Linked DNA regions of Homo sapiens: all the other regions are linked to region 3. Evidence: fine-mapped expression QTL. A gene starts in region 3. Each other region holds a variant in brackets. All regions are shown on one strand. Distances are from middle to middle.

Region 1 (4,000 bases), 110 kb before region 3:
AACCATGTAAAGTTAGCTAAATCAATCCACACGTGTTTACTAAGTTCCGATTCAGTAGCTAGCTCTATGCGTGGCAGGCACCATGAGGGAGACAGAAATGAGTTTAAAGTGACTCTGTGTACACTGCTATTCCCAAAGGTAACTGTTTAAATAAGAGGCAGGAGCCTGATTACAGGTCTTAGAGCAATGAAACTTGTCTACACCTCAAAAGTCTTGCTTGTAAGACCAAGAAGCCAGGCTCAAGGCCAAAGGCTTAATTTTAACAAGCAATTAAGCCCCAACAAAGAAAGTAGAGAGAGGAGGAGGACTTTGTTCGTTATCATTCCACACATACATCAAACCTATCTGGCTCTCCTGGCGGATTCTGAGCCCTGAGCTAAGCCTCAGCCATTGGAAAGCATGTTCTCTTCCTTTGCTTTGAGGACATTCAGAAGACAGTGCTTGTTCTTTGGTGTTAGGCAATGACATTGGTGTAGAGATAATGACACTGGAACTCACGCCTTCAGAGCCAGGTATCTCCGTGAAGCCCACCAAATCAACAACATAGACAATGGACATTTACATGCTACCTTCTTCCACAGACGCTCCCAGGGAACACTTCAGAAGGCTGGCTTGGTGCCTTCTCTCCGCCAAGAGCCCTCTAATTAAGGCCAGAACTGGGAATCTTCCACCATCAAAAGATGGTGTCTCACTGTCACTCATCATCCAACCACCAGATAACTTGGAAAATCTAAGAAACTCTTCTTGGGATTGCAGATCACAGCGAATGAAAACTCACTCATGACTCGAGCCTGCTGGAGAATGTCCAGCTCTAGCCAAGTCTGAATGACCAGCCAGAAACCTAAAGGGACACTGTCACTTAGCTGCAGGCCTAGTAGTGCAGGACAAAGATGAATTATTCAGTGGGAAAAGAGGGCAGGTTTAGGGGTCGCCCCAGAGTTCAAACCATACATAACCACTGTATTCATTTGCTAGGGCTGCTATAATAATACACAGGTGAGGTGGCTTAAACAACAGAGATTTATCCTTTCACAGTTCTGGAGGTTGAAAGTCCAAGGTCAAGGTGTCTGCAGGTCTGGCTTCTGAGGTCTGATTCTCCTCCTAGCCTGTAGAGATGGTGGCCTTCTCACTGTTTCCTCACACAGCCTTTTCTCTATGCATCCCGGGTATCTATGTGTCAAAATTTCCTCTTCTTTTTGGGGTGCCAGAAATGGAGTCTCATTCTGTGGCCCAGACTGCAGTGCAGTGGCACAATCCAAGCTCACTGCAACCTCCGCCTCCTGGGTTCAAGCGATTCCCCTGCCTCAGCCTCCCGAGTAGCTGGGATTACAAGTGGTTGCCACCACGCCCAGCTAATTTTTTAGAATATTTTTAGTAGAGATGGGGTTTCACCATGTTAGCCAGGCTGGTCTTGAACTCCTGACCTCAAGTGATCCACCTGCTTCAGCCTCCCAAAGTGCCGGGATTACAGCTGTGCACCATCATGCCAGGCTAATTTTTGTATTTTTAGTAGAGATGGGCTTTTGCCGTGTTGGCCAGGCTGGTCTCGAACTCCTGACCTCAGGTGATCTGCCTGCCTCACCCTCCCAAAGTGCTGGGATTAAAGGCATGAGCCACCAGGCCTGGCTCAAATTTCCTTTTCTTATAAACAAACCAGTCAGATTGGATGAGGGCCCCATTAATTTAATGCAATCACCTCAGTAAAGGCCTTATCTCCAAATAGTCACATTTTGAGGTATTGGGGGAGGAAGGGTTTCAACATATGAAATTAGGGTGGGGGTACAATTCAGTCCATAACAACCACCTAGCACCACTTGCGACCTTGGGCAAAGTCCTTAGCTTCTGTGAGCTTTATTTTTCTCACTGACCCCCACGTAAACAGGTAGGATTATACTTGCCAACAGAGCTACTGTAACAAAGTGGAAAACAGATTTTCTGGGACCTTTTTGTAAGGGACACTATTAATAATTATACAAGCTTAACAGGTATAAACCCAGACTGTCCCAGGAAACCCTAAGATAGGCTCCTCTTTGTCTTGAACACAGCATACCACTGACATCATGAGTTGTCGTGAACATTAAATAAAAATAAATACTGTACATAGTTACAACCTCA[G/A]AAATGATCTTCTCTTTGATTTCTTCCTCCAGGCTTACAAAGGCTGAGACATATCCCTCTATACTCAACCCTACTAAACCACAAGTCTTCTGAACTGCAAGTTACCGTAGATACGAGTGCAACCTATGTCACGTGACGGCAGTGAACTGAGCAAATTTAGCTAATTCGTTTTGAATGCTTACTTTATGCCAAGCATACGAAATTCCTGCAACGCTGCCAAGGGAGGTATCATGATCCCCATTTTATAGATCAGATAACTGATACTCTCAGAGAATAATTTGCTCAAAAACACAGGGCTAATCAGGAATGGAGCCAGGAGCAGTAAGCAAGTTTGTAAGTTGCCAGAAACTAGTCCTTTAACCGATATCCTGGTGTTAATCAAAAGTATGAACTTACTGAATCAGAATCTCTGGGCAAGGGTCCAAGGAATCTACATTGTTATGAAACACCCTTGGGGGATTCTTACGTACGCTGAACCGGAGAGACTTTACATGATACCTAAACTCTACCATGTGTAATGCAAGACTGAAAAAGCTTCCAAACTGACAAAGAATACGATTCCTGCCTCTGATCCCCAGCCAGCCATCAAGTGTCGGATGCATGCGTGAAACTCTTAAGAGCGTTGGTGTTCACGCTCTGCACCCCCAAGAAATTTCCAGGACGGGTGCAAAGTGTTCCCTTCTCCCCACTTTGGTGAAGAGATTTGCCTTGCCCTAAAAAACCTGGCTACCACCCTCCACTTTCCAGCATTTCCTCCTCAGGGAAGTGGGACTCTTTTTCAACTCCTCCTTCTTAGGGTCTCATTGCAGCAACCAAGGTGTTGCATAACGGGGCTTTCTCTTCAGATGTCCCCATGGGATTTCACACTGGCTCCTAAGACGAAGGCTGGGCACGTGCAGGGCAGGCGGCATGGGGTGATGAGGGAGGGATGCCAGTGATACAGAGGTGTCCTTGTTCTCTAAAAAAGACTGCATTTGGAATGTGAATGCAGGCCAGAATCACACAGCCCTCACCTTGTTGGAAAATGTGAACTCACCTTCAAATAGGGCTCAGGGGAGAAAACAGAAACCCCACAGAGAGAACAAGGGGATTCTCAATGTTTTACAGAAACGTTGGCAGTTAAAACTGGGTGTATTGCGCGCTCTCTTTCTCTCTTTTGTATTAAAAGCTTAAAAAGCTGGTCTTTCTGCTATCCTACTTTCATTCTACATTTTTTTAGCCCAGGACCCAGAAATGAGCAGTAGAACCTTAAAATGAAGCTTAGGCCCTTGGAGATGGCAATTCATCACCCACAGCCTTGGAAGATAGAGAAACCACAGACTCATGGAAACTTGGGAATTATCTTAATGCTTCTCCAGCTTGGTATGTGTATCCTTGAGCACAAATGGTTATCAAAAATCTAAACTCCTGTATTTAATACTTTGTTCTGTGTGTGCCTCAAGAGGTTTTGTAATTCTTTAAAAAGTACACAGAATTACCATCTTAGAATTACAAGGTTTTGAAGAAACCTACCTGAAAAGATTAGAGGCTTGAGCTACAGAGTGTTAAGACAAGAATGCCCAACTGGTGGCCTGTGGATGCTTCAAGCTGGTTTGCTTTTTTTTTTTTTTTTTGGCCTGCAGCCTTGATGAAATACTTGAAATCATTCATTGCCAATGTTTTAAAACCAGGATACTTCACATGCAAATCTAGATTTCTCACGTCTCCTTTAAGAACAGAAGATTTAGCAACACTGGATGTGTATTCTTGCAAGAAAACAGCTCCAGACTGAGTAGCTGGCCTGGCTACTGCAAGCAACAGAATTTATCACCCCCATATTAATGCAAATTGCCTAAGGTCACATAGCTAGTCAATATTGACAATAATCAAAATACCAGCTAACATT
Region 2 (4,117 bases), 370 kb before region 3:
GGTAGAGGTGGACCCTGACAGTCCAGGTCATCAACATCCACATTCAGTTGAAGCCTCTCCTCAGGCACAGTCCAGTACTGAATACCATTTATCATTCTGCAAAATGTTGTCTACATCTTTCAGGTGCTGGTCATTCTTAGATTAGCTTCTTAGCTGTTCTGTTGACGAACAGAAGACTTCAATTTTCAGGATGGATGTTCCAGCATCTTCCACAAGCTTTCACTTTCACATTTTTCACTAAATTATTTGTTATAAATTTGATCTCCTTCAAAAGTCCCCTGAAGTCAACTTTGGTTGTAATGTATTTGTCTCTAACGTATTCTTCAAATTCTCTTTGTTTTTTTTCCTGTCATTGGAGGAGAACTGCACCCAGAATCTTATTTTTACTACTTCCACGTGAATGTTAAGGTACACACAGAGGTTTCATCCAGAAGTCTTCCCTCTTCTTTCTGTTAAGTACTTCAATGTGCTCATTAAGCTTCTCTTTCTCTTCCCTTTCCAACAAAGATCTAGATTCCAAGTAGTGATCTTTTTGATGAGTCCTCTATCAAACTATGACACATGTGAAGAACATACCTGAACAACCCTCAGGGATAATGCAGGATTTTTTGAGAAAGTTCCAGGGTATCTCCTGGTGTCAGTGTACTTTCAGTCCTACACCTCAGAGTTTTTTCTTTTTAATAACAGCTTTATTGAGATACAATTCATACCTTACATTTAAAATGTATGATTCAGTGGATTTGAGTATATTCAGAGTTGTGCAGCCTACACCACAAGCTAACTGTAGGATATTTTCATCACCCTGAAAAGGAACCCTACACCCATTAGCAGTTACTCCATTCTACCTACAGCCAGCCTAGGCAACCACTAATCTTTCTGCTTATTCTGGACATTTCATATGAATGGAATCATCATGTGATATTTTGTGACTGGCTTTTTTCACTTAATGTTTTCAAGGTTTATCCACGTTTAGCATATATCAATCCTTTGTTTCTTTTTAGTGCCAAATAATGGCTATGGGCATGGGGTAGAATTGCTAAATCATACAGCAGCTGTTTCATCTTTCAAGGAACTGACAGTCTGTTTTCTGAAGTTGCTACACCATTTTACGTTCCCACCCGCAATTTCTGTACATCTTCACCAACAGTTACTATTATTTCTCTTTTTAACTACAGCCATTCTAATGAATGTGAATCTCAGGGTTTGTTTTGTTTTTTGTTTTTTGTTTTTGTTTTTGTTTTTTTTGAGACAGAGTCTCACTCTGTCACCCAGGCTGAAGTGCAGTGGCACGATCTCAGCTCACTGCAACCTCCACCTCCTGGGCTCAAGTGACTCTCCTGCCTCAGCCTCCCAAGTAGGCGGGACCACAGGCATGCACCACCACACCAGGCTAATTTTTGTATTTTTAGTAGAGATAAGGTTTCACCATGTTGGCCAGGCTGGTCTTGAACTCCTGACCTCAAGTGATCCACCTACCTTGGCCTCCCAAAGTACTGAGACCACAAGCGTGAGCCACTGTGCCCGGCCTCATAGTAGTTTTGATTTACACTTCCCTAATGATTGTGTCCAGCATCTACTGGCCATTTGTTAGTGGTTTTTTCTTCTTTAAAAAACTGCTGAGACATCCATAAACATTTTCAAAATGCAGGGTATGTTTTTCAGTGTTAAGGCAACTGTTTTGATGTGTTTTCCTTTGCTCTCTATCACCAAATACTGTACATACAAATAGTAAGACTGGGCTTTGTGTTGTCCACTGTCAATCCTAAATGAAACAAAATACATGGAGACTTTGAAAATCC[G/T]TCAGAATAATGCTATAGTTAAGATTTTGCTAAAGCAAGTGTTTTTTCTAACTCCTTGAGCTGCATATTGCCTTGAGTAATCATCAACCGGATTGTATCCTCTTCGGTGGCAGTTTTGTTTCTTCTGAATTCTTCCCTTGCCCAGTCCTTCAGGTATTTGCAATCAGAATCATTTGGAACTTGCCAAATTGTTTGCAAAATCCTTCTGTAGAGGAGAAGAATTTGTTGCCTTCTTATGAACGTGGGCACTGGGCAGCTGAGGCACCGGGACTCAGGGACATCAAGCGCCTGATGCATCTCATGCGACCGCACCAAAACCCAGGGCTCTATATTTCTAATGTCCCTGTTTGCTCTTCTCCTGTTTCTTTGAAGCCAAGTTTGGGCCGATACCCATATTAGATTAATAAATCCTAGGCTCCTTGATGACAAAGGTGATATTACTATCTGCTGATCCAAACCATGAATAGTCAAGGTTGAAAAATGAAATTGGCAGGAAGAAGTGTACTTTATTGGACCCAACCTTGCAATGTCAATGTTCTTAGTTCTGAGAAATTCTTGCTCCTGGAATTCATCCAGTTTCATCTTTGGATACCTGCAACCTCCCTGCTCACAACTCATTCTTGATTAAATTAGCAGATGCTGATGATAGAATGAGACTGAGGCCAGTGATGCTAAAATAATTTCTTGCTGGTGAAGGAGGCCCCAGAGGTTTTACAAAAAAATTTTTAAAAGCACCACCTAGGGAATAGAGCCAAAATGCTCAGACACTGCATGGAAGCCAGGGATTGTATTAAATCCGAGTAATTGGAGTGGAGAGGGAGAGTGTTTTGTAGTAATTGTCATCATAGCTGGCACCAGATCTCCTCTCAGGTAAGAACATAGAAGCTTGGAACTTACGAGAGAACTTAGCTTTCCAGTATTTTTTAGGTGTGGAATGTGAAGTCATGAGGGGGGCTGGTCTGCGAAGAGTCAGCAAGGTGAAAAGAGATAACAGAGTGTCTTGGGAGGTGCAGGAGAGCAGACAGAACAGGCAGGGAATAAAGAGAGGGAGATGGAAACGTGTCTGGAAGCTGGAAATTGCCCAGGCAGGTGGCCATTGAGAGATTTCTAAAACTTCTGAGAATGGGGGTATGTAATATTCTAAATCATTTGAAATCTTATGCAATCCTTTATCTGAATGCCTTGATGGAATCTGCTTTCTACATAGCTCTACAATTGTATTTTGAGGAATAAAGGGACCAGGGTACTTATTAGGGAGAGGTCATACAGTGCAGAAAGGAGAAAAAAAAAAAAGAACTTGCAGAATAAAGGGGTGATCTGTAAAATGAACCAATTCAGTGGAAATGAGACCCAGGGTTGTAGCTGAAGTTGACTCCCCAAGACCCTCCAAAGAGATTGGGGGGCAATACTGTGTCTCCCACAGTTTGGGGTGTTTTGAAAAAATCTCATTTAAATCTCTGAAGTCAAGGTGATGCCACTTTGTCGCAAATGGAGTCTTCAGGAAGATATCCAGTCTGCAATAGCAAATGTGGAGGCCAGACTAAATGGAACGCCCCTGAGGAAATTATGGATGTAGCAGCAGTCCAGTTCACACGCTCATTCATTCATTCATCAAACACTGGCACAACATCTTACATTGTCAAGGCATGTAATGTGTGCCGAGAATATAGACACTGTCCTTGCCTTCAAGGAACTTTCACCTTTGGAGTGAGAAGGCGAAAATAACTGATATTTACTGAGCTCTTTCTGTATGCAGATACTAGGCTATCTATTTCACAGGCTTTGTCTTTTTAAAATTCTCCCAGCAGCTTTATAGGTAATTATTATCCCCTATACGTGTGTGTGTGTGTATATATATATATGTGTATATATATGTGTATATATATATGTATACATATGTGTATATACATATGTGTATATATATGTGTATATACATATATGTGTGTATATATATGTATATACATATATATGTGTATATATGTATATACATATATATGTGTGTGTATATATATGTATATACATATATATGTGTGTATATATATATGTGTGTGTGTGTGTATATATATATATATATATATATATATATATATATATATATGGAATCTGAGGCCCAGAGAGATTAGGGAATTTGTCTCAAATCTGACTTAGCTAATCTATGATAAAAAAACAAATGTTTGGACACAGGATTATCTGACCCTTAAGTTGGGGGAGGGGTTCTTATTTTGGTCAGAGGCAATTGAAAATTGGCAGTAGGTGGATCAGTCTGGATGTGTAATTTGGAAAATATTCCCGGTGTTTTTCTGGAGTCTCACCTAATC
Region 3 (4,106 bases):
CCCACCATGTCTCCCCTACACGTTCTTACACTGGACCAGCAGGACACGACCCACAACCCTCCCACCCCACCTCCTGGGCTCTGGATGCACAAAGAACTTCTAATTGCATTTCTGCGGGAACCCATCACTATCAACTCCAAGAGTTCAAAGGCAGCGTTTCAGAGTACCCCTCTCTGTAAAGAAGAGATCGCAGGACACTAGGAATGTTCTGGTTCTCCGTCAGGCAGCTCACGCCACTATTCTCCCCGCAAATGAGGGAAAGACTTCTCCCTGCTACCCACACAGCAACGTGAAATGCCATCACATCACGTCTTGGGACTGGCTCAGTTCTCAGGCATGAAGAGCTGCACTCCGGCAGAAAGGGTCGCACAGACTCCGAAGAAGTTTAGCAGCTCAGAAAGCATCACGCTGTGTACTAAGGCAGTCTTCAGTGAGGACTTCCAAAGTGACAAATGATAGAAATATGCATTCAGTCTTCAGGATCCTGAAACCATCCCCCTGGTGTCTAATATCCTTTAACGGCTAGGCAAATCCTTGCAGACAAGTAGTGTGATGAAGAAACAGACAGACACACAACACATTGGCTATGCCCTAAGGCAGAACTCACGCCCCTGGAGAACTGAGACCTTGGCTCTGAAATGGGGACTCCGGCCTCCTGCCCCATGTGCTCCTGCTCCTAGCTCAGTAGGCTGGGCAAGGCAGCCCAGAGAAGGTGGGAAAGGTATCCCTGGAGAAGTTAGGGACAGGGTAGGAAGACAAGTCAGTTCCCCACCCAGCCACCCAGATGGCCCCAGATCTGCGGAAAAAACAGTTTCAGAGCCCTGACTGTTCACACCCACGAAGGGCAAAGTAATCCCATAGGAGTGGAAGCCCTGACGGTGTGGTCGGACACACAGCTGGTGACCTGAACCGGCCGCAACAAGACAGAAAGACAGAGACAACCAGCTAGGAGAAGGAGCCATGCCCTGAAACTGGAGATGGGGAGGAGATAAAGTCACAGAGGGCATGGGAGACGGCAAGGTTAGAGACAGAGAAGGTGAAGACGGAAGGCTCAAACATCCAGAGAAGAGAAACAGAAGACCCAAAGTAAGACCAGACACCCCGGACTGAGTATTGATTCAGGGGCATGGTCGGGGACTTGGGACGCCCAGCTCAGCCCTCATCGCAGGCCAGGACGAACAGAGGGCTCAACTGTCTGCACCCAGCTCGGCAAAAACCAGAGAGATGCTGCTGCGACAACCGCCCAGGAACAGCGGCTGAGGATCCGGGGAGATCCACTCACTCAGGCAGGGAGCGAGTCACCAAGACCTACACGCACGGAGCAAGTCACCTGGGGTCCCCAGCAAGAGTGATGGGGAACAGGAACCCAGCCAGGCTCCGGTAACCCCCAAAGCGCCCCCGCTGGAGAAAACTTCCCCCAGACCCCAAGGGGTCCGTGCTCAGACTCTGAAAGGGGCAGCCCACGACCCCTGAGCCTTGGCAGGGACCCCACCCGGCTTCCCGGGGCAAGAGGCGATGTGGAGTCGGTAGGCTTGCAGAGTCCCAGTCTGATGACCGAGTTCAAGGGCTAGGGGGGCGTGGGGTCGGGCTGCCTTCCTCCCTCCCTCGCCGCGGGGCGCGAGCCGAAAGGGCATCTTACCAGAGCCCGGGCGGGCAGTGCCCCCCGGCTGGCCGGCTGCTGTCCCCGCGGTTCTCCGGGGCCGCCTCCCCGCGCCCGCGCCTGGGGCCCCCGTCCTCCTCCTCCTCCGCCGCCGCCTCCTCCTCCTCCTCGGGCTGCAGCCGGCTCGGCGGGCAGGTCCCGGCGCTCCCGGCGCGGGGCCGGGGCCGGGGGCGGCTGCTCCCCGCCGCCGACCGCTGCGCCCCCGCGGCGCTCCCCGGCCCCGGAGTCGAGGCTGCTGAAATTCCACACGACCAGCGTCTGCAGCAGCAGCACCGTGAGCGCCGCGAGCAGCGCCGAGTGCGAGCGCCGGGCCAGCCTCCGGGCGCACGGCGCCGCCACCATCTTCGGAGCGCGGCCGGCGAGCGAGGCGCGGGGACCCCGGCACGCTCCGGGCCGCCCCCGCGCTCCCCGCAGCTCCCGCGGCCGCCGGCTGCCGCTCGGGCTCCCGCTCGGGCCGCCGCCGCCGCCCCCCTCCCCACACCCCTGTCCCCGCTGGAGGGGAGGGTGATGGGGAAGGCGCCGGGGGGACGCGGGCCGAGGCGGAGAGGGCGGGGCCTGGGGGAGGAGCCGAGGGAGGAAAAGGAGGAGGGAAAGGAAGGGGGTGGGGGCGATCAGAGAAGACAGACACCCCTCAGGACGTAGTGGGAGTAGGATGGGGGGCGAGGGGGACAATTCCCAAGGCGGAAAAAGAGAGGCAGGGGCCGCGAAACAGGGGACCTTTGGTTGAGGGTGGGCCCGCTCAGAATCCAGGGGAGGTCAGGAAGAGAGGGGGTCCCGAGGTCCTGTTTTCCCTGTGGGCCGCTGGAAGGAGGCAGTGCGTGGAGGAAGCTCCTAGCCCCGGAGTTCGCGGTCCAGGGATCTTCTGTCGGTACCAGACCGGTTGGCAGGTGGACACGTGAGAAACATTTCAGGAGTGTCAGAGCCACAGTCTGATCCCTTCATCCTGGGCTTGAAGGGGTGGGGAGGAGGCTTTGGGTGAGTTTCTGGAGTTAATCAGCACAAGCTCTGTGAGTGACTCCTGAATCACACACAATCCCCGGTGCCAACGATGTACTAAGTGTTCACTGAGTCACTTCTCTGGTCCCTGAGGACTCACAAGCCAAGAGACTCCAAACCCAGTTGGCAAGTGGTATAGCGGCAAAAGGGAGACCCGTGGAGTTACTCAACCTTCGCAGGATGCAAGCCCCAAAGGCTGGCCCCGCAGCCTCCCAGCGTGTCCTTTTCCCCATCCATCCTGAAGTCCCCCTTCCTGTCTGCACAGGGCCCAGGTCCTGGGGAAACAGGTCTTGCTCTTGAAAGTGGAGTTCTTTCCCATCCTGACTGGTCTGTCCCGGTGACCTTGAGCCAGGAGGAGGAGGACTCCTCCCTGAGCCCAAGCTTTCTCCTCTGTCGTTTAGGCAGAATGATCCCAATGGACTCAAATTTCATCCCGAGCCTTCTCTGACTCAGTCTTTCTGGTTTTTCCCTCCCTTGTCCTCTTGCCCAGGGCTTTATACACAGCAGCGCAGAACAGTGAGCATATGGGATGGCGTTGGTGTCCCATACGGGACCTAGCACTCTGGGAATACAACAGCAGATCAAATCAGTTTGTGAATTGAGGACTTGGCGTGAATGCTTCGCATCTTGTCTGCTGTGCTTTTTCACCTCATCCTAATTTACAAAGAGAAGAAAGTGGAGTGTAATGAAGGCTCATCAGACAATGAGGCAGGGAGTGGGAAGAGATTGTTTCATCCACTCCACAAGCATCCGTGAATACAAAGCTTGTGTCAGACACTGGGCCAGGTGCACGCATCCAAAGGTGAATGAGGTTTAATCTCATCTTCAGCAAGCCTGAGGTCTAGAGAAGCCTGATGTGGATGTTAATCATTAAAATATAGTGAGATAGGCCTGGGCGCGGTGGCTCATGCCTGTAATCGCAGCACTTTGGGAGGCCAAGACAGGAGGATCACCTGAGGTCAGAAGTTCGAGATCAGCCTTGCCAACATGGTGAAACCCCGTCTCTACTAAAAATACAAAAATTAGCCGGGCATGGTGGCACACACCCCTGATCCCAGCTACTCAGGAGGCTGAGGCAGGAGAATCTCTTGAACCCAGGAGGCAGAGGCTGCAGTGAGCCGAGATCACACCACTGCACTCCAGCCTGGGTTACAGAGCAAGACTCCATCTAAAAAACGTATATATAAATATATATATATTGTATATATATATATTATATATAATGTATATAATAAATATATTATATATAATATATTTATATATATGTACATATAATATATATAATATATAATATATAACATATATATAATATATATATTTATATGTAAATATATATAATATTATATATATATATATGGTGAGATAAGCATTGCTGTAGAGATGTGCAAAAATGCTAAGGGTTCATGAGGGCAGGACGGGAGTAAGCGCCAAGAAAAAATGCTTTCTGAAC
Region 4 (4,117 bases), 380 kb before region 3:
TGCAGATGAGGAAACTGGGGCTTGGAGACATTCACTTATCAGTCTAAGGCCAGAGAATAGTGGCAAAATTAGCATTCAAACTTGGGCCTGATTTTAAAATTCATGGGCTTAGCAAGTTTGCTACAAGGACTCTTGCGCTAACTCTGGGTTCATAAATGAGTCATCCAACACCTTTTGCCTTCATGCCCTCACCCATTGGATAGATGAATCCATTCCTACTCACATCTCAAGGCTAAATGAAAGAACGCGTGTTTGTGAACAGGCATCAGAATACATATAACTGGAAGGGGTGCCATAATTCATTTATTGTGTTCTGGCTCCCCACCAGCCTAACAGGGCCTGTTATTATGTGACCTCCCATTGCTTAAGCCTCTGATAAGACAGTAAGTCTGTATACAAGGTGACCATGAACTGCTACCTGCTTTCCAATTGCTGTTGGAAGAGCTCCTTATACCTTACGAGGCTAAGAAGATAGAAGAGGTATTTCGCTCTGGTTTTGAGCAATTTGTTCTACTCTGTGAACTTCTGTGTCTGCTTATCCAGTTTCATGAAAATTAGATTAACGAGTACTAATTGGTGCTGACTCCGCTAGCTTAAAATGGATGGTGTCAAATGGAAGAGGAGCCCACCAGTGTGATGTTTGGATCCCAAAGCTGCTGGGAATTAAGTTTCTGCATGGATGTCGATATCATAGGTTACTTGTGGCAGCTTGCTCCAAGCTACTTTTATGGAACACAGTGTCACCCCCACAGATCTTTGAAAGGAGGAAGGATGCTTTTTCCAAAGAGGATTTGCTTCAGATGATTTGGTCAAAATGCTCATTCATTCGAGGAATCTTTTTTGAGCACCTATTAGATGCCAGGCTCTGTTTTGGACTCAGGGGTACCAGTGGTGAATAAAACAGGCAAAGTTCCATCCACATTAAGCATACATTCTACCTAAGGTTGGTAGACAATAATGAAGTAAATATATAATGTCAAGCAGCATTTCCATCTGATACTTGTATATTGATTAAATATGAGATAAACACATATTTTAAAAATGCTTTGTTGAGATATAATTCATATACCATAGAATTCATCCATTGAAAATATACAAATCAGTGGGTTTTGGTATATTGAGTTGTGTAATTATCACCACAGTCAATTTTATAACATTTTCATCACTCCAAAAAGAAACTCAGCAATCTTTAGTTATCACCCTCCTATACCCCATACCCTACCTCCAGTCCTAGACAACCACAAATCTACTTTATATATAGATTTGTCTATTCTGGATAGAGAAAATATCATCTTTTGAGAGTGAGGAGGCATGGGAGGAGACTTTACTGTCCTCACCTCCCAGATGAGGCATTTTGGATTTAGTTTTCCTTGGAGCTCCCTCTAAGATCCAGACTTTTAATCGCTTCACAGGCTCAGTTTCTGGGGGATAGTAGGGGTGCTGGCCAGTGTCCTGATACAGATCCTCTTTTTTACCACTTTACCTTTCACCTCTAAGTCCTACTTGAGATAACAGGTGCAGAGCCAGTCAGCAACTGAGAGTAAATATGCATATATGGAAACAGAAGACACTCCAGTCAGCTGTGCAGTCACATCTCCAAGCAATAAATAAGCACATCATGTTTATAGAAGCCTCACTGTAGTCCAAATTACTGTAATCTCTTACCTGGACTGTTTTAGTAGCCTGGTCTC[C/T]GGTCTCCCCATGTTTCATCTTGCCTCTCTTTCAGCCTGTTCTTCCCAAGATACCACAATAAATGTTTCAAAGTGTGAATCTGTCCATGTCACTCTCATGCTGATGAAAATCCCACATAGTCCTCAAGGTAGTCAAGGCTTTCCTTTATAGCCCCTGAGGGCCTGCAAAACCTGATCCCTGGAAGCCTTTCCGGCATCATCTGTCACTATTCTTCCTCCAGTGTCTAAATCACTTTTAATTCCTGCGAAGTGTCACATAATCTCTAGCCGGCCTTTGCCCTCTCTGGAACATTCTTTCCTACCTGCATTGCCTGACTAGCTTCCATATGCCCTTCAGGTCCTAGATTAGAGATGACTTCCTTTAGTGGGAGGCCTTCCTTGTTTCTTCAGGATGTGGTTAGGTACCTGTATTAGCTTTCTACTGCTGCTTAACAAATCACCCCAAACTTAACACCTTAAAACAACAAACATTTCACATTTTCTGTGGGTCAGGAATTCAGGAGTGGTTTAGTTGTATGCTTCTGGATCAAGGTCTCTCATGAGTTGTAGTCATGGTGTTGGCCAGAGCTGCTGTCATCTGAAAGCTTGACTGGGGCTGGAGGGTCTGCCTTGAAGATGGTACATTCCCATGGGTGTTGGCAGAGGGCCTCAGTTCCTCATCTCGTGGGCCTCTTCATAGGACTATTTAATGCCCTTACAACCTGACAGTTGACTTCTCCCGTGATAAGGTTTGTGTGTCCCCACCCAAATCTCATCTCCAATTGTAGCTCCCATAATTGCCACATGTCATGGGAGGGACCTAGTGGGAGGTAATTGAATCATGGGGACAGTTTCCCCCATACTGTTCTTGTGGCAGTGAATAAGTCTCATGAGATCTGATTTTTTTTTTTTTTTTTTTTTCCTGAGATGAAGTCTCACTCTGTCACTCAGGCCATAGTGCGGTGGCACGATCTCAGCTCACTGCCACTTCCGCCTCCTAGGTTCAAACGATTCTCCTGACTCAGTCTCCCAAGTAGCTGGGATTACAGGTGTGTGCCACCACGCCCAGCTAATTTTTATATTTTTAGTAGAGACGGGGTTTTGCCATGTTGGCTAGGCTGGTCTCAAACTCCTGACCTCAGGTGATCAGCCCGCCTCAGCCTCCCAAAGTGCTGGGATTACACATATGAGCCACCGCGCCTCGCCAATCTGATGGTTTTATAAAGGGGAGTTCCCCTGCACAAGCTTTCTCTTGCCTGCTGCCATGTAAGGTGTCCCTTTGCTCTTCCTTTGTCTTCTGCCATGATTGTGAGGCCTCCCCAGCCGTGTGGAGCTGTGAGTCCATTAAACCCCCTTCCTTTATAAATTACCCAGTTTTGGGTATGTCTTTATTAGCAGTGTGAGAGCAGACTAATACACCCCAGAATGATCAATTCAAGAAAGAGTTGGGGGAAGCTGCAATGCCTTGTATGCCCTGGCCTCTGAAGTCACACACTTCTATCGTAATCTATTTGTTAGAAGCAATTCCAGTCAATCCATCTCACATTTAAGGGGGAAGAAAACTATGCTCTACCCATTGAAAGAAGGAGTTTCAAAGAATTGGTGAACATTAGTGACCCTTGTATCCTGTCCTTACAGTTCCTGCACTTACCCCTAAATTAGCTGTTAGCACACTGAGTTGTCATTGTCTATCTCTTTGACCATGAGTTCTTCAAGGATGAAGACTTACTTCCTTTCACAATATTTAGAATATTTCTAAATTCTGTCACAGTTCCTTAAATACTGTTTAGTAACCACTTATTTGGTGAATCAATGACCTGTTCTAGATGCCTGAAAGGTATAGATCAGTGCTTCTCAAACATTAATGGGCATCCCTGCAAATCACCCAGGTGTCTTGCTAAAATGAGGATTTTGATTCAGTAGGTCTGGGGTACAGCCCGAGACTGTTTTCCTAACAAGCTCCAAGGGGATGCTGTGCTCCATGGAGCACACTTTGAGTGGGTTAGGGTTTAGAAGATATGATCCCATTTCTAGATAAGCTTCATAACCCAACTGGGAAGACACACTTCCCCCAGTAGGGCAGCCCAAGGCTGGCCATGAAGTAGTGTCAGCCTAGTCATGGGCAAACCTGCAGTATACTGGACTCGCTTTCCCTCCAGCAGCCCTGATTGATTGAAGAGATGTCAGTGAAGGACAGTCAAGGAAGGGTCTGTGTGATATAGGAAGCCTTCCAAGTAGGCAGCATATTGTCATTTGGCTCTGGAAGGTAGAGCTGGGCGGGGGCCACTCATGTATATGCCAAGGGGTTGCATAGCGTGAGCAAGGGTGGAGGGAGGCTGAGTCAACTCCTTGGGGGGGATCTGAAAGAAAGCTGGGGTTGAGTGGTGGCAGGTGATGGAGTCCCCATCTACACCTCAGAGAACTCATGAGCCCAGACTGTCTGCTGT
Region 5 (4,000 bases), 110 kb before region 3:
TTAGAACCATTAGATTAAGGTAAGTCTATTTCTGAAAGCAAAGTGAGTTATGTTAAGGAAAAATGTATTTTTAGGTGACTTTATAGAATAGATGAAATTTACATAAGGCAAAGGTGGTCAAGGTGATAAGGACAGACAAAACCAAGCCAGAGGACAGCCAAACAGGCAGAGGAAACCGAATCCTTTTCCTCCTCAGAGCTGCACCTTCTATACTTCCCTGCCGGCCCTGGCGCCTGGTCAGCCCTGGGGCCCCCGTGGCTATACCTGTGTGCCAGAGAATGCAAGGACAGAAAAGCACAAGGAAACTGTGAAGATCTGCTGGCCTTCCCCATCAGGGAGGAAGCAAGGAAGGTCTCCTCATTCCTCTTAGGAGAACCCAAGCAGAGATGCCAAGGAGAGGGCAAGGACCCAAGGTGGAGGAGGCAAAGGCCAGGGGAGCAGGTGGTCTTTTCCAGTCCACCCCAGAAACCCTTGAAATCGCTGAGCTGTCATTCAGCCTTGAAACGTTCGAACAGGTTTGACTGTGTCTGACACTTGCAAGCTATTCACTGTGGGGCTCTGAACGAGGCCTGTCCTGTCTGCCTACTCTCTTTACTGTCAGCCAAACCCAAAGAGCTAAGGAAATGATTAATCCAAAGATAAGAAACGTCCCCTTCAGATCCAGCAGGAAAAGTAACAGTTCTATTGGTTTAAAAAGCTGCCACTTGCCGGACGCAGTGGCTCATGCCTGTAATCCCAGCACTTTGGGAGGCCAAGGTGAGCGGATCACAAGGTCAGGAGATCAAGACCATCCTGGCTAACACGGTGAAACCTCGTCTCTAGAAAAAATATTAAAAAATTAGCCGGGCGTGGCAGCGTGCGCCTGTAGTCCCAGCTGCTGGGGAGGCTGAGACAGAAGAATGGCGTGAACCCGGGAGGCAGAGCTTGCAGTAAGCCGAGATCATGCCACTGCACTCCAGCCTGGGCAACAGAGACTCGGTCTCAAAAAAAAAAAAAAAAAAAAAAAAAAACGCTACCACTCACAAGCACTTAGCACGTACCCCGGACTTTATAAACATCATTTCCTGTGACCCTCAACCACAACTCTGCAAGGTGGGCACTATCACTGGGATGACGTTTCAGATGCGAAGACACTGGCTTAGACATTATGTGGCCCCATGAACACTGCAGGGCTAGAAGACACAGAGGTGGAATTCCACCTGGCTCTGTTGAACTCCAAGGCCTATACTCATAGCTGCTGCACTGTCCTAGCTCCCAGGAAGGCAGAAAGCAGACAGTCAGGGCCGTGCCCTCCCTTACAAGACCCGCTGGTCATCCTCCTCCCCACACGGAAATGCCACTGCAATCACAATTCCTCAGAATGGCCTAACACGCAAGCAGATGAAAGGGTGCAACTTCCTTCCATATGCTGCCCTCACTGCCAAGGAATAAAAGTCCTCCAAGTTCAGGCATCAAAGAGTAGCATCTTCCCACTTCATGGCTCTCCTCTGTCTCCTCTCTCCTTTGCATGAACCTCCGCATGATGGTTGGGCAGGAGCGAAGGACAGACGAAAACTCAAAAGAAATGATTATGGTTCTCGCCACAGGTGGGAGGGGCACCAGACACCTGGGTGCGAATGTGCACCCATGCACACCCACACCATTGCACACACGTGTACACTATATGCCAGTGTGTATACATACATGTGCAGGCACACACACATCCAAATGGGACCAGGGGCAGCCATGGGCCTGTCCAGCCTTTCAGAGCCACGGGACAAGTCCCCTTGAGAGCTGGAATACTAAGGCTGAGATAAGTGGCCAAGACAGGAAAGATACTTACCTGAGTCTCCAGGGTGATGAGCGGACTTGGGTGTGGATCCTGTAGGATGAAAGGAGAAAATGCACGTGAGGAGTGAAAAAAAGTTAACTTACTACCCCAGCATCTTTTTCTTTCTTTCCTTTTTTTTTTTTTTTAAGAGACAGGGTCTCGCTTTGTTGCCCAGGCTGGAGAGCAGTGGCATGATCATAGCTCACTCACTGCAGCCTCGACCTCCAGGGCTCAAGTGATCCTCCCACCTCAGCCTCCCAAGTAGCTATGACTACAGGCATGCACTATCATGCCAGGCTTTTTTAAAAAATTATTTTTGTAGAGATGGGGTCTCGCTATGTTTCCCAGGCTGTTCTCCAACACTTTGGCCTCAATGATCCTCCCACTTCGGCCACCCAACGTGCTGGGATTATAAGCATGAGCCACCACGCCAAGCTCCCAGCATCATTTTCAAACAAAGCTTGATTTCCCCAGTGGTCAAGCCACCCCACGGGGAGGGCAGCCCAACCTGTGTCCTCCATTCTACAGAGACATCAGGACAGCTTGGC[C/T]CAGTCTGCAGGCCGCCCCAACACTTCCTCTCACGCACAAGTGATGAAAGAGGCTCAAGTTTTTATGAAGGAAATGCCCACATGGAGATCACACAAAACAACAAAATGTAAAGAAAAAAGAAACAAGGCACCCTTGCCAAAGAGCTCAACGTGTATCCAAACCCTCTATAAGGAGAGTTTGGCTCCGTAAGAGGATTAGGAATAAACCAGAAAGAATATAAAGTCCTGACTAGGAACAAGGCCATCATCAATTTGTGTCTGATCTTGGAAAGAACAAGGGAAGGAATGAGAGCGAGCAGCTTAATTTCTGGTTTGAGGAGCACATTCCATGGTCTGGGGAAGGTCTTTTTTTAGGATAGAGAAGGCCAGAGAAATGTCCTATTCATTCACTCTGTACAAAAGCCGATTGACTGGGAATGCTTGGTGGTACTGTCTCGGGTCATTAAGCATGAACCCTTTGGGTTGGAGGAGAGACAGGGAGGGTACAGGAGGAGGAAAAGACTGATGGGAGGAGTTGGTGGTGTCCAGTGAGTGGTTTCCAAAGAAAACAGGAAACCCAGCACATGAAGGCTATTTCTGTCTATACCACGTCTGCTCTGAACTTAATCATCTTGGATTTATAATTCTGGGAAAAACAACCTCAAGCTTCCTCTGATAGAGAATGGGCATGATTTTAGGGCCCTGAAGTACACATCCAGTTTGAAGCTTTGCTTTGTCTTAGCAGATTTTCCACCACGGGGTTTTAGGAAGCCATGCAAATTAGCACCAGCCCATTGTCCCATACTGTGAGCAAGAAGGAAATGCAGGGAAATTGGAACTTTCTAAACCCCTTCTCTAGGTGAGCTGCCATTCACTGTCTTGATGACTGTTCTACGGTATCTTTGTAATGATGCCCAATTCTGAGGAGTGTAAGAGGCACGATCTCAGAAATACGGTGAGCTCTGCTCAGCTCTGTCCTTTAGGAAGAGGAATTCGTCGTCCCCCAACTCCAATTCTGAGTCCAACTCCCAGTAATTCTCCATTGGTGTAACTGAAAGGAAACTGCCAAGAGAACATCCCACTCTAATTCTCACATTCCCCCAGGCATTGAGTCTTCCTCATACCCAAGAAAACATGGAGGGGAATATGTTCTCCCCGTCTCCCCACATTGCAGCCTTGACCTATAAAGGAATCTGGGGAAGTCATGAAGGAGCTGTTTTGGGCCTGTCTCTTCAAATCCTTACTGATTCCTTCCCAGGGGTGAAGAAGTGGCAGCTAGGATTGGTAAAACCCGACATTCATAGAGCAACTTTCTTTTGATCAGGCAGGTTTTGTATCACTCGCATGCAGAAAGAGTCTACTCTGTACTTCCTGTTTCCCTGTGTTGGGGCAGGACCCATTTTTGTCTTTGGGAAGCAAGACCATCCTCCTGGTCTGTGGGTGGCAGCATGAGTCAGACCTGGTACGAGCTTAGTGGGCGAGAGCATGCAACATCTGCTGTTCAGGTCAGAGTAGTCTGTGTCTGTCTGTCTGTCCATTCAGATCTTACCACCTCGATTTTGATTATAAGATAAGAAGCTGCATCTCAGCCTCAAAATTAGCCTCAATCTCCAAGCCAAGTGCTAGCAAAGCACCAGACTGGGGTGTTGGGTGCATGCCCAGA
Region 6 (4,117 bases), 91 kb after region 3:
TAGGAGATGCATGCTGAGTTATCAGGGGTGAAGCATCATGATATATGAAATTTACTTTCAAATGGTTCAGAAGAACATTGTGTGTGTGTGTGTGTGTGTGTGTGTGTGTGTGTGTGTGTGTGTGTAGAGAGAGAGAGAGAGAGAGCTCCTGAGAGAGCAGAAATTGCTGTGTCAACAATTTTGAATCTAAGGCAAAAGATACGCAGATGGTCATTATACTATACTATTCTTTCAGCCTTTGTCTGGAGCCAGGCTTCCTACGTTCAAATCTTCACTCTCTCACTTACTAGCTATATGATAACTTCTGGCAAATTAAAGAAACACTCAGTGCCTCAGTTTCACCATCTTAAGATGAGAATCATTAAAATGCCTAACTCAAAGGGCTTTTGTGAGGACGAAATGAGTTAATGTACTTAGAATCATTTATTGAATTAGGTGCTCAATGTGTGCTAACTCCATAATTAGCTGTTTGTGATTAGATACATGTATAAATAGATGGGTTGATAGAGGTGGATAATAAGATGGGGAGAGGAAGGAGGGAGAAAAAAGTGGAAGGAAAGGAGGGAGGAAGGAAGGAAGGAATGAAGGAAGGAAGTAAGGAGGGAGGGAGGAAGGAAGGAAAGGAGGGAGGAAGGAAGGAAGGAAAGGAGAGACAGCTGGAATATCTCATCACTCATAGTGAGTAATGTTTTATTTGTAGTTTTCAGTAAACTTCAAGTTTCTGCACTTGGCATAAATGAGGTAAACATTATCAATGAGGTAAACGTTATTACAAACATATATGTAAATTATATAATGCCCCTACCCAGGTTCCAGCCTGCAAACCCAGCTAGAAGACGTTGTTCTTTCCACACAGGTGTTCATCACTCCTTGCGGGCATGGGCAGGAGCTTGGAACAGCAGAGTTTTTGAGACCTGGAGTGATCCCCTGGCACCCAGAGTAGAGGTGCCCTTGCTTCCCTTCCGTCTGCTCCTTCTCACCTGCCCTCCAAAGTCAATTTCAGTGCCATCTCACTGTCAGTGGTGCCCTTGTGGATACGGGAGTCCTGTTCGGCCGAGGATGGAGTCTCCCTAATGGTAATGCATGCAGAATAGGACTGGCACCTGGATTGCATTTTAAACACATTCCGCACCATTAGGCCATCCTCATCATTCACAGGACTGACGGCAGAGTTGCGGGGGCCTCCAGGCCCAGCAGCAAGTCCAGCCGGTTCATCCGGTCGGGGCATCCTGCCAAGACCCTTCAGCTGTGAAGCGGCCACTCTAGGCACAGGTGGGGAGACCTGATGAGCAGAAAGCAGCCTGGAGTCTGCCTCCTGGGAATGGGAACAAGGATTAGGGGGCCAAGCCCTGAGGAGCATCCCAGCCACTCTCCTGGGGGCACAGATTCTACCCATTGGAATAATAAGTGCTTTCTTTTTCACGCGCCTCTCTCCAACTTGCTCTAGCACTGCAGCCACTCTAACCTTATTTTCCTTTCTCCAACACACCTGGAACTTTCTTTACATGGGACCTTGACACAGGCAAATCCTTCTCTCCAGAACATTCTTCCTTCTGCTGGTTCCCTTCTTGCTGTCCAACTCACCTCCCCAGGAAGCCCTCCTAGATCTCATAATATCATAATATCAAGAGGTTGTCCCTGCCTCATTGTCTTTTACCTTTTATTTACTTATTTATTTAGAGACAGAGTCTTGCCCTGCTGCCCAGGCTGGAGTGCAGTGGTGCAATCTTGGCTTACTGCAACCTCCGCCTCCCAGGTTCAAGCGATTCTCGTGCCTCAGCCTCACGAGTAGCACCGTGCCCAGCTACTTTTTGTAGTTTTAGTAGAGATAGGTTTTCACCATGTTGGCCAGGCTGGTCTTAAACTCCTGGCCTCAAGTGATCTGCCTGCCTGGGCCTCCCAAAGCGCTGGGATTACAGGCGTGAGCCACTGCACCTGGTCTTTTATCTTGATACTTTCTTTCTTTTCCTCTGTGCCTCAGCTTCCTCCTTTGTAAGTGGGGTAACAATTGTGCGGAATGTGCTCTATTTGGTCAACTTTTCTACCATGTTCTACATTCCTTTGGCTGATCAGTTGGTTCTCATGTCCTCTGTCTGGATTCAGTCAATGAGAGGCAGGCAGAGAGGAGATGGGACTATTGATTGATCCCCTGGGCTTACATGCTTACCTGTTGGGTGGCGCTGAGTTCCTCTTTTCAAGCTTTCTGATGGACAGCTGTGTTCTTGGCTCTATTAGGTTGGTGCAAAGGTAATTGTGGTCTTTGCCATTACTTTATTTTTTTTGAGAAAG[A/G]GTTTCACTCTGTCGCCCAGGCTGGAGTGCAGTGGTGTGATCTCAGCTCACTGCAACCTCTGCCTCCTGGGTTCAAGTGATTCTCCTCCCTCTAGAGTAGCTGGGACTACAGGCACCCAGGATGCACTCGGCTAATTTTTGTATTTTTAGTAGAGATGGGGTTTCGCATGTTGGCCAGCCTGGTCTGGAACTCCTGACCTCAGATGATCCACCCGCCTCGGCCTCCCAAAGTGCTGGGATTACAGGCGTGAGCCACCGTGCCTGGCCTTTGGCCATTACTTTTAATGAAAGCGTCCCTCCGGTGTTCCTTCAGCACCAAGGGTGGTAACAGCTCCCTGATGTGGCCAGCGCCTCGGTGCTTCACTGTCCCTTGTTGGTTTCCTTGGGTCCTGCCCACACCTTTGTAAATTGTCCCTTCGCTGCACTAGCCTCAGTAATGGCTCAGACAGTGTCATCTGCTACCTACCAGGACTCTGATCCACATAATAATAGTCCCTATCTCATATGTTGTGAGGATTAAAATGATTTCAGTGCAGGATACACAGTGCTAAGATTATTATTTGCTATTATTCTCCTTCCTCTCACTTATCACACTTTGCACTTAGTTGCAATGCTAATTGCTCACTACTTTTCCCTCTGGTTAATTGACAATTTGCATGAAGAGGGAGTCTCTGTCTGTGCCTGTTCATTCAATCTCGTGATGGTCCAGTGTTAGATGCAAAATAGGTCCTCAGAAAATATCTGATGAGTGAATAAATGAATGAATGAAAGAATGAGGGTTGGTTTTCACTTTCCAAAGCACTTTTATATATCATGTTGAATTGTGTGGTAGCATGCATATTCGATTGGTTTTGTTTGATAAACACAGTAATTTCACAAGCCTTTACCTATTACATTATCCTCTTTGATCCATGAAGAATAGTCACAATTTAATAAATAATTAGACTGAGAAGAATGGAGGGAAAAGTAGAAGGGGGAAATGCTGCCTGAGAACCTATTATGTGCTCAGATTTTCCATTAGCATTTGATGGACATGATTTATTTTGATTTTCACAATGGTTATTATCATAACGACAGAAGCATCATTATTCCCTAGTTTACATATGCAGAACACAGGACAGAGAACAGTTGGAAGACTCACCCGTAGTTACTGTATTAGTCAGGGTTCTCTAATGGGACCGAACTAACAGGATAGATGTATATATAAAGGGGAGTCGATTAAGGAGTATTGACTCACACAATCACCAGGTGCGCTCTCACAATAGGCCATCTGCAAGCTGAGGAGCAAGGAAGCCAGTCCAAGCTCCAAAACAACAAAAGGAGGGAAGCCCACAGTGCAGCCTTCAGTCAGTGGTCAAAGGTCCAAGAGTCCCACAGCTGAAGAACCTGGAATCCGATGTTCCAGGGCAGGAAGCATCCAGAAAGGGAGAAAGATGGAGGCTGGGAGACTCAGCCAGTCTATTCTCTCCATGTTCTTCAACCTGCTTTTATTCTGGCCGCGTTGGCAGCTGATTAGATGGTGCCCTCCCAGATTGAGGGTGGGTCTGCCTTTCCCAGTCCAGTGACTCACATCTCCTTTGGCAGCACCCTCACAGGCACACCCAGGAACAATACTTTGCATCCTTCAATCCAATCAAGTTGACAATATTAACCATCAGAGTCACCAAGCTGGAGGGTCATAGAACTGGACTCCAGACCTCATGTGTTTCACTCAAAATGTCATGCTTTTCCCACACAGCAGTTATCCCACTGAGAGACCCCAGAGAGTCTCTTATAATGCATGCAGGGAAAGGTATAAACAAGTATCTGTTTGTAATAGCAAAACAAA
Region 7 (4,000 bases), 26 kb before region 3:
AAACAAGATCGCCTTATTCCTACTCAAATTAGCAACTTCATGGCTTAACCTTCCTCCAAAACTAAACTGAGAGTGGCAATATAGGGGATTTGGATTTTCTTCTTCACATATTCATCTCCTAAATGTTTCTCGGTGAACGTGTGTTACTTTAATCAGCAAAGATGATACAAATTATTGATTCATTCTGCATTCACTCTATGAGAGGCAGAGTTAGCTCAGCATTTGAGGACTGGACGCATTGGAGCAGACCGCTTGGGTGCAAATCTCGACTCAACTCTGTGACCTCAGGCAAGGGTCTTAAATGCTTTTGTAAAATAAGTATGAAAATTGTAGTTACCTCACAGGGTGGCAGAGATTAAAAGTTAATTGAAGCAAAGGAATTGGCATGTGCCTGACAAATAGTAAATGCTCAGTAAGTACTTGCTACCTATATTATCATCATTTTATAGTATGTATATATAGTATGATATAAAATATAAACATACATGATATAGTATCTGATATGGTTTGGCTCTGTGTCCCCACCCAAATCTCATCTCGAACTGTAATCCCCGTGTCGAGGGAGGGACCTGGTGGGAAGTGATTGGATCATGGGAGTGATTTCCCCCATGCTGTTCTCATGATAGTGAGCGAGTTCTCACGAGATCTGATGGTTTAAAACTGACAGTTTCCCCTGCATTGTCTCTCTCTCCAGCCACCATGTAAGATGTGCCTGCCTTCCTCTTTGCCTTCCACCATGATTGTAAGTTTCCTGAGGCCTCTCCAGCTATGCGGAACTGTGAGTCAATTAAACCTCTTTTGTTTATAAATTATCCAGCCTCAGGTGGTACCTTTATAGAAGTGTGAGAATGGACTAATACAGCATATATTAAGTTCCTGCTACATGACAGGCATTAGAAACGTAGTGATACAACTAATCACCTAACCCCATGGGTCTTAACCTATCTAGCAGGAGTGGGACATTATATAAATACACACCTCTTTCTGTTCCAGGATCCAATCCAAACTGCTTTGCACTTTGTCATCATATCTAGACTAGAGGGTTTTCTTTTTGAAAGCTCAAAGCTGATCCTTTTCCTGCTTTGAGCTCCCAATACTTTTCCATGACACTCTCAATAAAATCCAAACTCCTTGCTTTGGTCTCAATCTCAAAGCTCCCCATATTTTCACCCACTGACCCCTCTTCCTTTCCCCCACCAGGCTCCCCTCACTCAATGACCACCAGGCACACTGGCCGTTCATCAACTCTTTGAATCCCAAGCTTCCTCCAGCCTTCACATTTTCTGTGCCTCCTGGCTGGAAATCTGTTTCCTCAGAGGTCCTCATAATGTTTCCTCTTCATGTTTAGGTGTAAGTGCGAATATCACCTCCTCAAGGAGGCCTTCCCTGGTCATCCCAGCCAAACAAGTCTCAGCCCACCATAGTCACCGTCTAATACACAGTGGTTTTTAGAAGACCACTAATTGCTAAACTAATCCTATTTATATGTTTATAATTTACAGTCTAACCCTCAGTACTGGAGTATAGGGACCTTTTCTATCTTGTTCACTACTTTTTTTGTCTTTTTGAGACAGGTTCTCACTCTGTCACCCAGGTTGCAATGGTGATCACAGCTCACTGTAACCTCAAACTCCTGGGCTTCAGTGATCTTCCTGCCTCAACCTCCCAAGAAGTTGGGACTACAGACACATGCCACCATGTCCAGCTAACTTCTTCTTCTTTTTTTTTTTTTTAATAGAGACAGAGTCTCACTATGTTGCCCAGGCTGGTCTGGAATTCCTGGTCTCAAGTGATCCTCCCGCCTTGGCCTCCAAAGTGCTGGGACTACAGGCACAAGACACCATGCCCAGCTC[A/G]CCATTTTATTGTAGGTGCCTAGGAGAGCATGCTGCACATAGTAGATGCTCAATAAATATTTGTTAAAATAAATACTATTGGAAGGAATGAATGGATGAAGGACAGGCATATATTTTCAAATGTTCACAGATGTGTCGCAAGAACCTAGTGCAGTGCCTGGCACATAGTAGGTGCTCAATGAGTACTTGTCAAAATACAGACTGAGGGAATGAATGGATAAAGGGCAGACATGCACTTTCAAATGTTCATTGATGTGTCCCTAGAACCTAGCTATGGCACCTGGAGCATAGTAGGTGCTCACTAAATATTTGGTAAAATAAAAATGGGTTAGAAGAGTGAATGGATGAAGGGAGGACACCATTTGTTTTTTTAGACAGGGTCTCACTCTATCACCCAGACTGAAGTGCAGTAGCACGATCTCAGCTCACTACAACCTTTGCCTCCAGGGCTCAAACAATCCTCTCACCTCATCCTCCCAAGTAGCTAGGACCACAGGCACCAACATGCCAGGCTAATTGTTTGATTTTTGGAAAGACAGGGTTTCACTATGTTACCCAGGCTGGTCTCAAGGAGCCTGAGCTTAAGAGATCTTCCTGCCTCAGCCTCCCAAAGTGCTGGGATTACAGGCATCAGCCACACTTGTTCACTGATACGTCCCAAGAACCTAGCCCAGTGCCTGGCACGTAGAGGCTGCTCCATAAATATTAATATTTGTCAGATGAATGGCATTTGAGTGAGCACCATCCATTGTTAAAGAAAGAGGTGACCACATAGAGTGAGTCGGCTGGAGGCCACTCTTCTGCCCAAGGGCCTCTCTCAAGAAGTCACCAGAAAGGAAGGCTGGGAGCCCTTCCTGGCAGCTGCCAGAACATCTGTCTAGAGAGGCCCCGGGCTCACCTGGGCTGCGTGGAGGCCTGGGCTGGGCTCTTTTGAGCGACTCTCACTACTGGCTCAGGAAGTTCCACCCAGTGCCGCCCCAGCATGGAGGCTCCTCTGTGGCCTCAATGCAAACTCGCCTCAGAAAAGGCAGCTGATTAACACGCGTGGAGGGTCTATTGTCTGAATCCCGTCACCAGCGGAGAAACAGCTGTTTATAGTTTGTTTATTCCTCTCCCTTTGGAGCCCACGGGAGGAAACACAAGCGCTTGTTCTCAGGGGCACCATTCAGCAGCTGAAGTGAGTGAAGAAAACGGTGTTTATTTTTAATGGGATAAAGAGGGGGAACTCTTACAAAGTTTGGACACTAGCAGGGAGACCGCTCTTCAGGAGGCACCAGGCCTTGTGGTGATGTGTTGCACCCTGCCTCTCGAGGGATGCTCAAGAGTCTATTCCAACTCCCAGCTGGAAACTCAGGCTCGGGCCACGGTGGTCGGTCAAACAGTAGACTTGGGTGAGCACCTATAGATATGAGAGATCTAGAAAAGCTCGTCAGGCTTGAAAATGAGAGAGCAAGATTTCTTTGGAGAGCAACCACCTGCTATTTAATATAGGTGACATCCTATAAAGGGCTGCCAAGCCCAGTTGTGCAGGCTGGGCACTGCACAAAGGTGTCCAGCTGAGGGAGAAATCCAGCCTCTGTGAGCTGCTCATCAAGCCATGCTCCACAGTTTCAAAAATAAATACATACATAAATAAAGATGACTAAGTGAGACAACAGCAGTCTCACAGATATATAGATGTATTTATGTACTTCATCTTTAAATGCTCACTTATTGACTCTTCACAATAACCTTTCAGATTAGGGACCACTGTCATCCTCACTTTACAGATGGCACACTGAGGCAGAGAGAGGGAACCTGACTGCTCCAAGCTCATCCAATTAGGAAGGAGTGAATCCAGGATTCAAACCCAGGCTCTTGGTTTCCATCAACAGGTGATGCTGCCTCTTCTAGGAAAAAAAAATGGCTCAACAAGCCCCAGAGTGTCATATTCAGAAAACACAGTGCCCCTCCCAGTCTTGGGAGTGAGACCTGCTTTCAGAAACACCCATGTCTTCCCTCGATTCTGCAGGTGATCAGGCTGGAAGGAGGTAGGCGAAGACCCCATCGTCTGCATTACAAGGAACTCCTTCTAAAGACTCAAAAGATTTGCTCTGAACTGGTGAAAGTCTGGGGACTCCCACTCAGCCTGGAGACTCAACCAACCC

Which allele goes with the higher level. Alleles are on the strand shown, and positions count from the first base shown. SD is a standard deviation of normalised expression in the study named. Not every link is listed here.
As copies of G replace T in region 2, the expression in CD4 T cells of the gene that starts at base 2,166 in region 3 goes up (large effect, 1.0 SD a copy in Kasela 2017).
With allele C in place of T in region 4, the expression in monocytes after LPS of the gene that starts at base 2,166 in region 3 is higher (large effect, 1.2 SD a copy in Fairfax 2014).

Evidence for each region. PIP is the estimated chance that this variant, and not a neighbour inherited with it, causes the effect.
Region 1: its variant is the best candidate, but not a certain one, in a credible set for the expression of XYLT1 in T cells (TOPMed, PIP 0.58).
Region 2: its variant is the best candidate, but not a certain one, in a credible set for the expression of XYLT1 in CD4 T cells (Kasela 2017, PIP 0.82).
Region 4: its variant is the best candidate, but not a certain one, in a credible set for the expression of XYLT1 in monocytes after LPS (Fairfax 2014, PIP 0.59).
Region 5: its variant is the best candidate, but not a certain one, in a credible set for the expression of XYLT1 in whole blood (TOPMed, PIP 0.90).
Region 6: its variant is the best candidate, but not a certain one, in a credible set for the expression of XYLT1 in unexposed skin (GTEx, PIP 0.70).
Region 7: its variant is the best candidate, but not a certain one, in a credible set for the expression of XYLT1 in tibial nerve (GTEx, PIP 0.87).

Annotation. Positions count from the first base shown.
Region 1 is chr16:17,362,351-17,366,350 of GRCh38, forward strand. All of the region lies in intron 1 of XYLT1 (xylosyltransferase 1), which reads right to left. Among named protein-coding and RNA genes, the nearest start is that of XYLT1, 110 kb to the right of the region's middle. The variant G/A (reference allele first, on the strand shown) is at 2,116.
Region 2 is chr16:17,094,384-17,098,500 of GRCh38, forward strand. It overlaps the pseudogene TCERG1P2. Among named protein-coding and RNA genes, the nearest start is that of XYLT1, 370 kb to the right of the region's middle. The variant G/T (reference allele first, on the strand shown) is at 1,800.
Region 3 is chr16:17,468,795-17,472,900 of GRCh38, forward strand. It overlaps XYLT1 (xylosyltransferase 1), which reads right to left and starts at 2,166. Exons shown (of 12, transcript NM_022166.4): 1 at 1,640-2,166. The coding sequence starts at 2,002. It overlaps LOC107987234 (a long non-coding RNA gene), which reads right to left and starts at 1,633. Exons shown (of 2, transcript XR_001752091.2): 1 at 1-1,633. It overlaps LOC105371106 (a long non-coding RNA gene), which reads right to left. Exons shown (of 3, transcript XR_933144.3): 3 at 2,213-3,310. RefSeq lists enhancers at 946-1,215, 1,336-1,385, 2,160-2,661.
Region 4 is chr16:17,087,825-17,091,941 of GRCh38, forward strand. No RefSeq gene overlaps it. Among named protein-coding and RNA genes, the nearest start is that of XYLT1, 380 kb to the right of the region's middle. The variant C/T (reference allele first, on the strand shown) is at 1,692.
Region 5 is chr16:17,356,190-17,360,189 of GRCh38, forward strand. XYLT1 (xylosyltransferase 1) reads right to left here. Exons shown (of 12, transcript NM_022166.4): 2 at 1,823-1,861. Among named protein-coding and RNA genes, the nearest start is that of XYLT1, 110 kb to the right of the region's middle. RefSeq lists an enhancer at 3,824-3,913. The variant C/T (reference allele first, on the strand shown) is at 2,359.
Region 6 is chr16:17,560,056-17,564,172 of GRCh38, forward strand. No RefSeq gene overlaps it. Among named protein-coding and RNA genes, the nearest start is that of XYLT1, 91 kb to the left of the region's middle. The variant A/G (reference allele first, on the strand shown) is at 2,290.
Region 7 is chr16:17,442,794-17,446,793 of GRCh38, forward strand. All of the region lies in intron 1 of XYLT1 (xylosyltransferase 1), which reads right to left. Among named protein-coding and RNA genes, the nearest start is that of XYLT1, 26 kb to the right of the region's middle. The variant A/G (reference allele first, on the strand shown) is at 1,854.